2 separate regions of the Homo sapiens genome follow, and region 2 is linked to region 1. Evidence: fine-mapped expression QTL. A gene starts in region 1. The other region holds a variant in brackets. All regions are shown on one strand. Distances are from middle to middle.

Region 1 (5,371 bases):
ACCCCGCAGCCAGCAAAGGACCTGGGTTTTCACCCACAAACCCTCGAGGACAGGGCTTGTCAATGCCTTTTGGTTGTGGCTCATTTAGGGGGAGCAGAAGACCCCACGGCCCCCCTTCCCTGTTTGTTCCCACCTTCCCTTGGGAAGAATGCTAAAGTTTGTTTATGATTTCCAAATAATATGTAGCCCTTAATAACTTATTCAGAGTATCACGAGCAAGGAGCCCTTCGGTTATACTCATAAATGGCAGCCTGTTGCACTGTGTATCTCTCCCCCAGGGAAGCAGGAGGGGGGCCTGGCATTTCTGGATTAGCCCCAGGAGGACTTTTCCTGCTTCTGAGTGGACAGAGGATCATCCTTGGAAAATTGCTCTTCTGAGATTGAATTCCAGATCCTACATCCCTCTGTCAATCTGCCTGCAAGGTCTGAAGCTGGTCTTAGACCCTCTGGTGCTATGGTGCCCATTAAACAGACACTGTAGTCTCCTGTTAATAAGATTCAATTAGGAAAGGGGTGGAGAAGGGCACTCACCGCCTGAGAGTGTGTCAGGGAGGCCTGAGTGGCTGCCTTCATTTCGCGCCTGCTGGAGGCAGGAGGGAGGAAGGTGGTGAGCTCGCTCAGCAGGGAAGGCCAGGCTGCACCCACCTCCCTGGGGGCTGGGGAAACTCAGGGTGACCTCCAGAGCCTCAGGTGGCAGCTTACTGTATGATCGAGGTGATTTTTAATGTCTCAGAGCAGCCCCAGGGTCATCAGAGACAGACCAAGCTGTGCCATCTGGAAGGGCCAGCTTCGAATCTAGTTCTGGCCCCTAGGGTTGCACCAGTGACTTCAAGCCTCCAAGTCTCAGTTTCAGGTTCTTTGATTCTTGGGTCAAGTGAAGGGTGGAGATAAGCTGCCTTCTACCACCACGCCTGATACTTAGGAAAGCCCCAATATCTGGGATTGTTTTTGTTGTTTTGTTGAAAATATATATATATATATATATATTTGTTTTTTTTTTTTGAGACGGGGTCTCGCTCTGTTCAGGCTAGAGTGCAGTGGCACAATCTTGACTCACTGCAACCTCCGCCTCCCAGGTTCAAGCGATTCTCCTGCCTCAGCCTCCCAAGTAGCTGGGACCACAGGCATGCACCACTATGCCCGACTAATTTTTGTATTTTTAGTAGAGATGGGGTTTCGCCATGTTGCCCAGGATGGTCTCAAACTCCTGGGCTTGAGCAATCCATCTACCTTGGCATCCCAAAGTGCTGGGATTATGGGCGTGGGCCACTGTGCCTGCCCTTTGTTGCTGATTTTTAATCCTTACTTCCACTTTACAGATGAAGAAGCAGAGATCTAAAAGCATGTTTTTTGCCTGCAAATGCTGACATTCACTTGTCTTATTGCTAGGAAGAAATCTCTGTACTTTCGCGGTCTCTGGGAGGGCCCCTGGTGAGCAGACTGTCCCTGGACCTGGTTGGAAGCAGTTGTGGAGCTCTCACTACTCCCAGCTTCAGCTCAGTTGGTCCTTAAAAAGTCAGTTCTCTCCCCTTGCCATAAATCCCCACCGTCTCTAACTCCCATCACTACCCTAAAGCAAAGTAGGTTTTAAAAATGCCAGTAACACAAGTGAGAAAACTGAGGTCATTTAACGATAAGTTTGGGAGTAAAACCAAAAACAAAAAAGGAAACTGAGGCCCAGAGAGGTGCCATAACTTGCTCAGGGTCACACAGCACGTAAGTGCCAAAGGCAGGGAGCTGTAGCTGCTCCAGCGTGGATATGCCAGGGACTAGTGACAAGCCCAACCCCTCCAGCCCAACTCCACCCTTCCTCATGCCAACAAAAGGAGAATCATTTCCTATTTCTGGCATCTTTGCCAGCCCACAGAGACAGAGAGAAGAAGAAATATTTCCAAATATACCAGGCTGATCTTTCGTAGTTTCTCAGTCTTGCTGTCTGTTGTTGTTTGAAATCTGTTTCCCACGAGACTCTGGGAAGATGGAGGTGCAGGGCTTGGGTAACAGCTGCCTTCCTCAGGGCTGGGTACCTGCTCTCCGAGTCTGTGTCTCCAGGCTGTGTGCTCAGACTTGACCATGTTTGGGCATGGAGGCTTGCCCCAGATGGGGACCAAAAGCTGCTTCCCTGGAGACGGGCGGGGAGGCCAAACTTCCTGCTGAAGCTCTGTGGCCTCTTTTGGGGTGGGGGCGGGGGTCCAGGCAGAAAGAAACTGTCTGCTGCTCAAGACCCACAGGACGCCGGGAAGACTGTGAGTACCGGGCCTGAAAGCACTTGGGAAGTGATTTCTCTGAAGACCGGGCTGGAGGGAGACAGGGGAAAGCAGCCTGCCACGGGGCAGGGAGGGAGGCAGGCAGGAGGACTCCCTTCCTCTCGGGGCTGTCCTTCTGGATGGAGGGCCCGTGGTCTGGTGGCCAGTGGGGAGGGTGGCACAGTGGCCAGGTTACTCTGGTAGTAAGCGCCCTGGCCCTCTAGGTCCCAGTTCTCAGAGTGGCCAGAAGGCTGCAGCCTGGAGATTAACACCAATGCTGGCACTTGTCACCGGTAGAGAGGTGGGACAAAAATAGATTCATCAAGAGGGGTCCAGACTTCTGCTCCAAACTTTCAGGGTTTCCTTCGTTAGTAGTAATAGCTAATATTTACTGGGGGCTGATTTGGGGCTAGGTGCTATGATACATGTCTGATACTCAATATGGCATTTGATCTTTAGCTGAACTCTCTGAGGCAGGTACCATGGTTCTCGTTTCACAGTCATGTGGTTGCTAAGTGTAAGTGGCAGAGCCAGGATTTGATTCCATGTCTGAGGACCTCAGAATCGCCCTGTCCACACCCCACCAAACTGTTCAACAATGTACTCTATTCCTTGTCCTTCTAAGGAAAAGGATGTCGACCCAGCTATCAGGTCACCCAGGACACTCCAAAGTCCTGCCTTCCTTTGTCCTTCTCCATCTTCTCTGAATCTATCCCAGATCTCAAGTGACCTTTCTAAATGGGAAGATATATCCTGGAACTTCAGAGATATTTAGAAATGCTCAAAACTGGGAAGTTCTTCTTACAGTCTAACTGAAATCCCTCCTATGATAGCTGAAACCCACTTCTTCCTTTTCTTTCTGTCCCTTGGGGGATATTGACAGTTCCCATCCTTCCTCCCGCCAAAGGTTCTCCCTTTGGATGCTGAATACTAACTTCTTGCTGAAGTCATATCTACACTGAACCCCACGCATGGTCTTAGGAGGATTTATCATGACTCTATAAACTCACTCAGTGCAGGCAACAATCTCATCAGACCATTAGAGACGGGTCAGACCTGAATAAGCCAAGTTTCCAGACTTCTCTGTGACAGGGAAGCCTCTCCTTTCCTTTCCTTCTGAGCTCCTAAAACTGGTAAAACCAGGTTCCTGCCTTCACCAGCCTCAGGAGTGCCCAGGGGCCTGAGAGGGCACTAGAAGCCAAATAGCAGAGGAGGCCATGGCCCTGGGCGCTGGGGGGGGCTGATTAGCCAGGAAGGAGCCACAGGAAGCCCCCACAGGTGCGATCCAGTTCCCCCAGGAGAGAAATGGCTTTGTTGTGGGCACTCAGCCCTAGGCTTCCAAGATGGGATTTCCCATTGGCTTCAAATGATTTATGTCTCACAGTATCTGGGGTGGGGCCAAGTGCCAGTGACCCTTGCAGGTCCTGGGGAAGCAGGCTGTTGGGGCTTTTAGCTTACCTCCAGGTGATTCTGTTGCTTTACCTGTGAATACATGGAGAGTCTTGTTCAACTGACGCCAGGTAGAAAAAGGCATGGGCTCTCCCATTCCCACAAGATCACAGAACAGGAGGAAAAGGATTGAATAAAAAGAGTTGAATAAAACATCTCTCTTTGTCGGGGGCAATTTCTGCTTGCTTGTGCTTTTATAATGTCTCCATTAGAATGCAGGAGAAACTCACCTCCTGGTGCCAAATAAAGGAGAAAAAGTTGTCATTGGATGTCACCTCTGCCGATCGATAGGGGAGGTGGACCAGCTCACTGGGAAGGTGTGATGGGTATCCGTGGTGCCTGACCCTGGTCTCTTCCCTTTAGCGGAGATGCCCGGGTATGAGGGCAGCCTGGCTAAGGGGAGGGAGTCAAGAATCTCTGAATATTTGAAACAGTCTAGTAGTTAAGAGACGCCTGAGCAGAAAATAGAGCACTTTGCAGAAAATCTCTTTGGACTAAGGCCTGTCACCCGGACACTGGCTAATTAAACAAACAAAAACCATAATATGTTTATTACTTTAGGGACCTGGCAAGGAGAATAAAGTCCCCCTGATATCTGGCTAAAATTTCCCCTAAATTCCCCTAAAATTTCCCCTAAAATGGAGGATTACATTGATAGCTTCCTGGTATTTTTGGTAGAAATGGACTCTGGTTACTTTAAACAAATAAAAACAACAGCAAATAAATTTACCAGAGGCTCTAGGACAGCTTGCGGAACCATGGGAAATCACGCGGGGACCATGGCTGGGCATCTCTGTGGCTCCAGGCGGCATAGATTGAGGGGCTGTTTCTTGAAGTCTTTGTCAAGACTCACACTCCTGGGGGAGCGATCAGGAGCCTAGCAGGGGAGGGTGGAATCTTTGCTTGCATTGGGGTGGAGTCAATGTCCAGGGGAAAAACAAGGAGTTGCTGCCTAAAGAAAGAGGAGAGAAGGAAAGCAACCACCAGCAGAATGTGCCCATTCTGCTTTGTCCCAGGTGGCTTCAAGCCCTGAAATAAGAAAGCAGTCGCTGAGGCCACCATGATGCCTTCTTTCTTCTTTCTTTGCTTGAAGTAGGGGAATGTTCCTTACAAAAAAAAAAAACACCGGAATATGGTAAACCTCCTGCCTCTCCTGACAACCTGCAGCTGCCTTCTGGGGCCCTCCTCTCCTTTCCCTGCCTGTGCCCGGCCCAGCTAGCCCTGCCACAGAACTGTTTCTGGGCAGAAATACTCCAAGTATCCCTGTGAGATAAGTGCCGTGGAAGGAGGTGCATGGATGATGCACATGTACTGCTCGCTCACCGCATGGGACCTATGACTGTTGTAGCAAATGATCATAAACCTGACGGCCTCAAACGACAGAAATTTCACCAGAAGTCCAAAATCACCAAGGTGTCTGCAGGCTGCACTCCCTGCAGTGGCCGTGGGGGATGAGCCATTGTTCCTTGCCCCCGCCAGCTTCTGACGCACTCCTTGGCCTGTGGTCACATCACTCTAATTGCTGTCTCCCTGGTCATATCACCTTAGCTTTCTCATCTGTTTAATCTCCCTTCACTTCCCTCTTATTAGGACCCTTGGGATTACATTTAGGAGCTACATGGATAATCCAATATTGTCTCCCCATTTCAAGAGCCTTTATCTTTTTTTGTTTTTTG
Region 2 (5,371 bases), 21 kb after region 1:
AGGGAGAAAAGCTCAGGAAAACAAGAGTTTGAATCTGCCTTGTTCATGACTTTGGGCAGTTTATTTAATCTTCCTGAATCTCAGTTTCCTCAATTGGAAAGTGAGCCTCACAGTGTTTGTTTTACAGGGTGCATTGTATCATCAATCATGAATGTGAAGTACTCAGCACGGTGCATAAAAGATGCTTCACAAATGTCTGTTCTCTCTTCAAGTAAGTGTGTCTCCTTCAACCGATAATTCAGATTCTTTTCGATTTGGGCTCAGAGAACTACCTCCTGCCGTCTTTTTCTTACTAGCAACTTCCCGCCTCTCTTGCTTGTGGGCCTGATTGATGACTGCCTCACCTCCCTCTCTCTCTCCCCTCTTGCTTCATTTCTAGGGGTACCCTGACTTAACAATTTTGGCCACAAACAGACTGCCTATCTTTGCTTTGAACTTCCCTGACTCTACTTGTATAAACTTAATTCCTGGGGAAAAAGGGTCCTACCCACAGAGGCCGTATTTCTGCCTCACTGAACCATTCCAATGGTTGAAGGACCAGCTTCCTTGAGAGTCCACTTCATGGGAGAATCATGACCCGTGATAATAATAGGCCTGGCCAGAATAATCCTTCCAGTGCGAGGTAGGCCAACCTCCTGGCCCAGAAATCAGGCTTAATTGGAAATTAAATTGCTTTCCCATGCCAACTGCAAGACGCCTATATCTACAGCTAATTTATCAAGGTGATGCCTTATCTCAAGGAAGCCCATGGGAATAGAGTGGCTGCATCAGCAAAAGTGCAAACTTGGTCCTGATGAGAAGAGTTTTCTTTAAAGTACAGCTTGAACCCTTTGAGATTCTCATTTGGGGTTCAGTGCATTTAATGGCTTCTTCCCCCTTGCCAGGCTCTGTGCCAGGGCCTGGAGGTATGGATACCAGCGGGGCAGGCACCGCATTGGAGCAGCTTCCAGGGCTAGTGGCAGAAAAAGAACCGTGCAAGAAAAGTTTCCAAAGCTGTAGCACTTTACTTAGTTGTCCAGGGATGAGCAGCTTATGGAGGTAGAGAATATCATGAATAGAGTCACGGTTAATAAATTGATTTCTATATTTAGCACTGATACTAACAGTTCATGATCAAGGGTGTGTGGCACTCTTCGCCAAGCCCTTTACACACATACATTCCATTCTCTGGGCAACTGTAGGAAACAAATACACCAGGATTTTCATTATCCCCATTTTACTGATGAAGAATCTGAGTCTTAGAAAGTAAGTACCTTGCCTAATGTTACTACTTCCCAACTAATAGGCAGTGGGACTGGAACTTGAAATAAGGTAATTTCATGCAGAATTTATGCCCTTAAATACTATACTACACTGCTCCTTTATTTCCCCAGCTTTTTATTTTGAAAATATCCAACTACAATGCAAATTGTAAGCATGCCTCCCCTTCATCTAGGTTCACCAATGATGATCAGTATTTTATCATATTTGGATTTTCTCTCTGTCTCTGTCTCTCTCTGTGCACATGCGAATTTGTGTTTCTGAACCATTTGAGAGTTAGGCTGAGGAGCACAGAACAGAAGGCTGGTTTGGAAACATGTGGGGACCAGTTTGGCTGGAGGAGAATGCGTGTGTGGGTTTGGTCACGGGGACACAGGACTAGGGAGTGGGCTGAGGTCTGAGACTGTGGGGTTAGGGCTGGGAGTGCCAAATCTGGTAGTTCGGGGTGTATTGCCACATGGCATGAACAGCCAGTGATATGCCAGTGAAAGCAGAACTTTCATGCGTTCCCATACTGAGAACTGTATGATTGAAGATGTGTATTTAGTGAATGATATGTTTGTGGTTTCTGATTAAATATGGATGCTTATTGAAGACAATTCAGAAAATGCAGAGAAGCATCAAGAAGAACTTTAGGCCGGGCACGGTGGCTCACAACAGTAATGCCAGCACTTTGGGAGGCTGAGGCGGGCGGATCACAAGGTCAGGAGATGGAGACCATCCTGGAAAACATTGTGAAACCCTGTCTCTACTAAAAATACAAAAATTAGCTGGCTGTGGTGGCCGGCACCTGTAGTCCCAGCTTCTTGGGAGGCTGAGGCACAAGAATCACTTGAACCCAGGAAGCAGAGGTTGCAGTGAGCTGAGATTGCGCCACTGCACTCCAGCCTGGTGACAGAGTGAGACTCTGTCTCAATAAAACAAACAAACAAACAAACAAACAAACAAAAACTTTAAAAACTCACCTTTAATCCAAGCTAAAACCTAAACTAATGTTTCAGTGTATTTCTTCTCTATTTTACTTTTCCATACACATCTATTCCCACAGACTGGAACTGCATTCATCATACAGTTTTTTTTCTCCTGGCTTCCTACTTGATACGATATCAATAGCATTTCTCTAGGTTATTAATTAGTTCCTAAAATAATTTTTCAACAGTTTAATATTGTTCCATCAGACAGATGAACCAAAATTTATTTAATACACAATTTTTTCCATTGACACTTAGATTGCCTCCAGTTTTTCACTGTTATAAATAATGCAATAATACCATAATGAATACCTCTAAATAAAAGTCCGTATGCACAGCTGTGATGATTTGCTTAGAATAGATTTCTAGAAGTAGGGCTTCTGGGTCAATG[G/C]GTTAGATGGGCCATCTCTTTGGAATGGTGTGGAGGAGTCAGAAAGGGAAGAAATGGGAAGAAACGCAGTCTGCAGGCTGCTGCAGCAAAGCGGGTGAGAGGTTAGAAAGGTTCAGATTTCAGGAACGGTTCTGAGAGTGGAAAGGGAGTGACAGATGGAAAGAACAAGGCTCGAGACTGGGACATGTAAAGAGAAAGAGTAAAATCAGGAGAGAGAGGTCTCCTTTGGTTTTACAAGGATTGAGTAGGGGCTATAGAAAGACATTCAACTGGAAGGGTCTAGTGGTCCTTCCTCCCATCCTCCATCAATCCATCCATTTGTTAGGCCCCTACTCTATGCCAGGTCTTGTGCTGGGTGCTGCACATTCTTTCTTTCTTTCTTTCTTTCCTTTCTTTCCTTTCTTTCTTTCTTTCCTTTCTTTCTTTCTTTCTTTCTTTCTTTCTTTCTTTCTTTCTTTCTTTCTTTCTTTCTTTCTTTCTTTCTTTTTCTTTCCTTCTTTCCTTCTTTCTTCTTTTTTTTTGAGACGGAGTTTTGCTCTTGTTGCCCAGGCCGGAGTGCAGTGGTGTGATTGTGGCTCACTGCAACCTCCACATTCTGGTTCAAGCGATTCTCCTGCCTCAGCCTCCCAAGTAGCTGGGATTACAGGCATGTGCCACCATGCCCAGCTAATTTTGTATTTTTAGTAGAGACAGGGTTTCGCTGTGGTCAGAATGGTCTCGAGCTCCTGACCTCAAGGGATCCACCTGCCTCAGCCTCCCAAAGTGTTGGGATTACAGGCGTGAGCCACCGTGCCAGACTGCACGTTCTTAAATAACTAAAATGTAGCCCCTGCCCTTCCAACAAGTTCACAGTCCAGCCAAGGAGTCACCTGCAGGCCTGGAGCTTAAGAAAAGAGCCAAGGCAAGAGAGAGAGACTTGGGAGTCTCCCCCAGAGGTGAGGCCATGAAGGGGAGAGTGCAGAGATGAAGGGAGGAGGCGAGGGGTCTTGCTTGGGCTTAGTCTATGAGTCATCGGCTGTGTGGCAATGAAGAGCCATCTGCTGGGTGGCCACCACTTCCAGGAGGGGCCAGGCTACCCTCCATCCCTGTGCCCCCAGCTACCAGCCAGAGGAGGCTCCGTTTTGAGGGTAGCTTACTCAAGGGTGTTCCTTGCTCTGGCCTCAGTTTCCCCACCCTTACACTGAGGACATTTGGAGGAGTCTCACGCTGGTCACTGTGCCATGTGGCCTTGACTTCCAGTCACATACTGGCCACCTTCAGGCTCTCAGAAGCTCCCTTGGCCAGACTGAAATTTCCAGATATAATGAACATGGGGGAGCCTGTGCCTGATGTCTTTTTACCTCATGTGCCCTGTGAGACAGGCCAGCAGGCACAGCAGATGCTCAAAGGTAGTGCCAGAGCTTGCTTGTCCATGGGGCTTTGTGGTTCCAGCCAGCTTCTCCCTTCCAGGGTGGTGTCCTCAGGGGGCTCTGACCCAGGGTGCAGTGACTGCCACGACATCCAGGTCTGAGGCCTCCTCCACCTCCTCTGTTGAGCCCCCGGTGGACTCTATACAAAGACAAGGTTTTACTGCCCCTTCTTATTTTTTCATCCGTAGGAGAGTGTGGGCTGGGAGTGGGGCAGGAGTGTACAGGAGATTTTAAAGGTTCTGGACATGAAGAGCTTGCTCAATGAATACAGTGTGAGCTCTCCTGTCTCATCTCCCTAGAATAAAACTCTTTGTCACTGATACTCGCATCCCGGGTAGGGAAAGGAAAGGCAAAGAGTATGTTGAAAACATCTCTCACTCTTTTCTGGCCCACGTGGGTGATTTCAGTCACTCAGCCGTTTCCCAAGACATGGGAGGTCCCTGGTTTGCCTAGGATGCAATGAGGGAGATTTAAGCTCAGCCCTGATAAACAGCAAAGCCAAATAAAAGCAAAACCACCCATCATTTGTTGAATCCTTAATTTGACACAAGCCCTACACTAAACACTTTTAAGTGCGTTACTTTAATAAACCTGTGGTATTGGCATTATTGCACACATTTTACAGAAAAGGAGGCTAGGCTCGAAGGAGTGACTCCCTTGGACTTCCCAAGGTCACACAATTTGGTGGTAATGGATTCAGCATCCAGTGAACTCCAAAATCATGTTTCCAGAAAGTCCTGGATCCTCAAGGGCTGGAGGGGAACACAGCCATGGAAGCCAGCTGCGTCTGCAGCCCCCAGATGCCTTCGCTGGTGACTGCTCACTTCATGCCCTCCCAGAGGAGCCCCTTGGCTGAATGGAGCAGAGCACACTGGAAACCATCGCCATCCTTTCCCAGCGGCAGGTTCCCCTCTCTCCATGGCAAGAACAAATCAAAGATGAACCAAATGGCCCGCCAGCTCCAGAACTGAGGAGGGCTGTTCTTAGGATGGTAGCCTGAGAAGCCAGATGACTATCTTAATTAACCCCTCATGTCCTGGATGCAGGAACATGGGCGGCCTTGCTAAGGAGGAAGTGTGGATGGACAGACGGACGTGGAAATGGTGGATACAGAACTGGAACCTTTAAAGGGCATGCAGTGCCGAGCCTGTAGGGAATGGAAAGAGGAGGAAGCCCAGATTCAAGGCCAGCTCTGCGTCTGGCTTGCTGGGTGGCCTTCCCCAGGCCTCAGGTTCCTCATCTGCCAGCTCAACCTCTCAACTCCCAATGAGGGCCTACCATGTGGTAGGCCCTGCACCAGGTGCTGGGGAAGTAGTCAAGGCCAGGCAAAATTCCCTGCC

Evidence for each region. PIP is the estimated chance that this variant, and not a neighbour inherited with it, causes the effect.
Region 2: its variant is the best candidate, but not a certain one, in a credible set for the expression of KCNMB1 in whole blood (TOPMed, PIP 0.50).

What each region holds. Positions count from the first base shown.
Region 1 is chr5:170,386,134-170,391,504 of GRCh38, reverse strand. KCNMB1 (potassium calcium-activated channel subfamily M regulatory beta subunit 1) reads left to right here and starts at 2,138. Exons shown (of 4, transcript NM_004137.4): 1 at 2,138-2,246. It overlaps KCNIP1-OT1 (KCNIP1 overlapping transcript 1), which reads right to left and starts at 2,012. Exons shown (of 3, transcript NR_109899.1): 1 at 1,902-2,012. It also overlaps a transcript of KCNIP1 not described here. RefSeq lists enhancers at 96-596, 597-1,097, 3,022-3,522, 3,523-4,023.
Region 2 is chr5:170,365,087-170,370,457 of GRCh38, reverse strand. It overlaps a transcript of KCNIP1 not described here. Among named protein-coding and RNA genes, the nearest start is that of KCNMB1, 22 kb to the left of the region's middle. The variant G/C (reference allele first, on the strand shown) is at 2,623.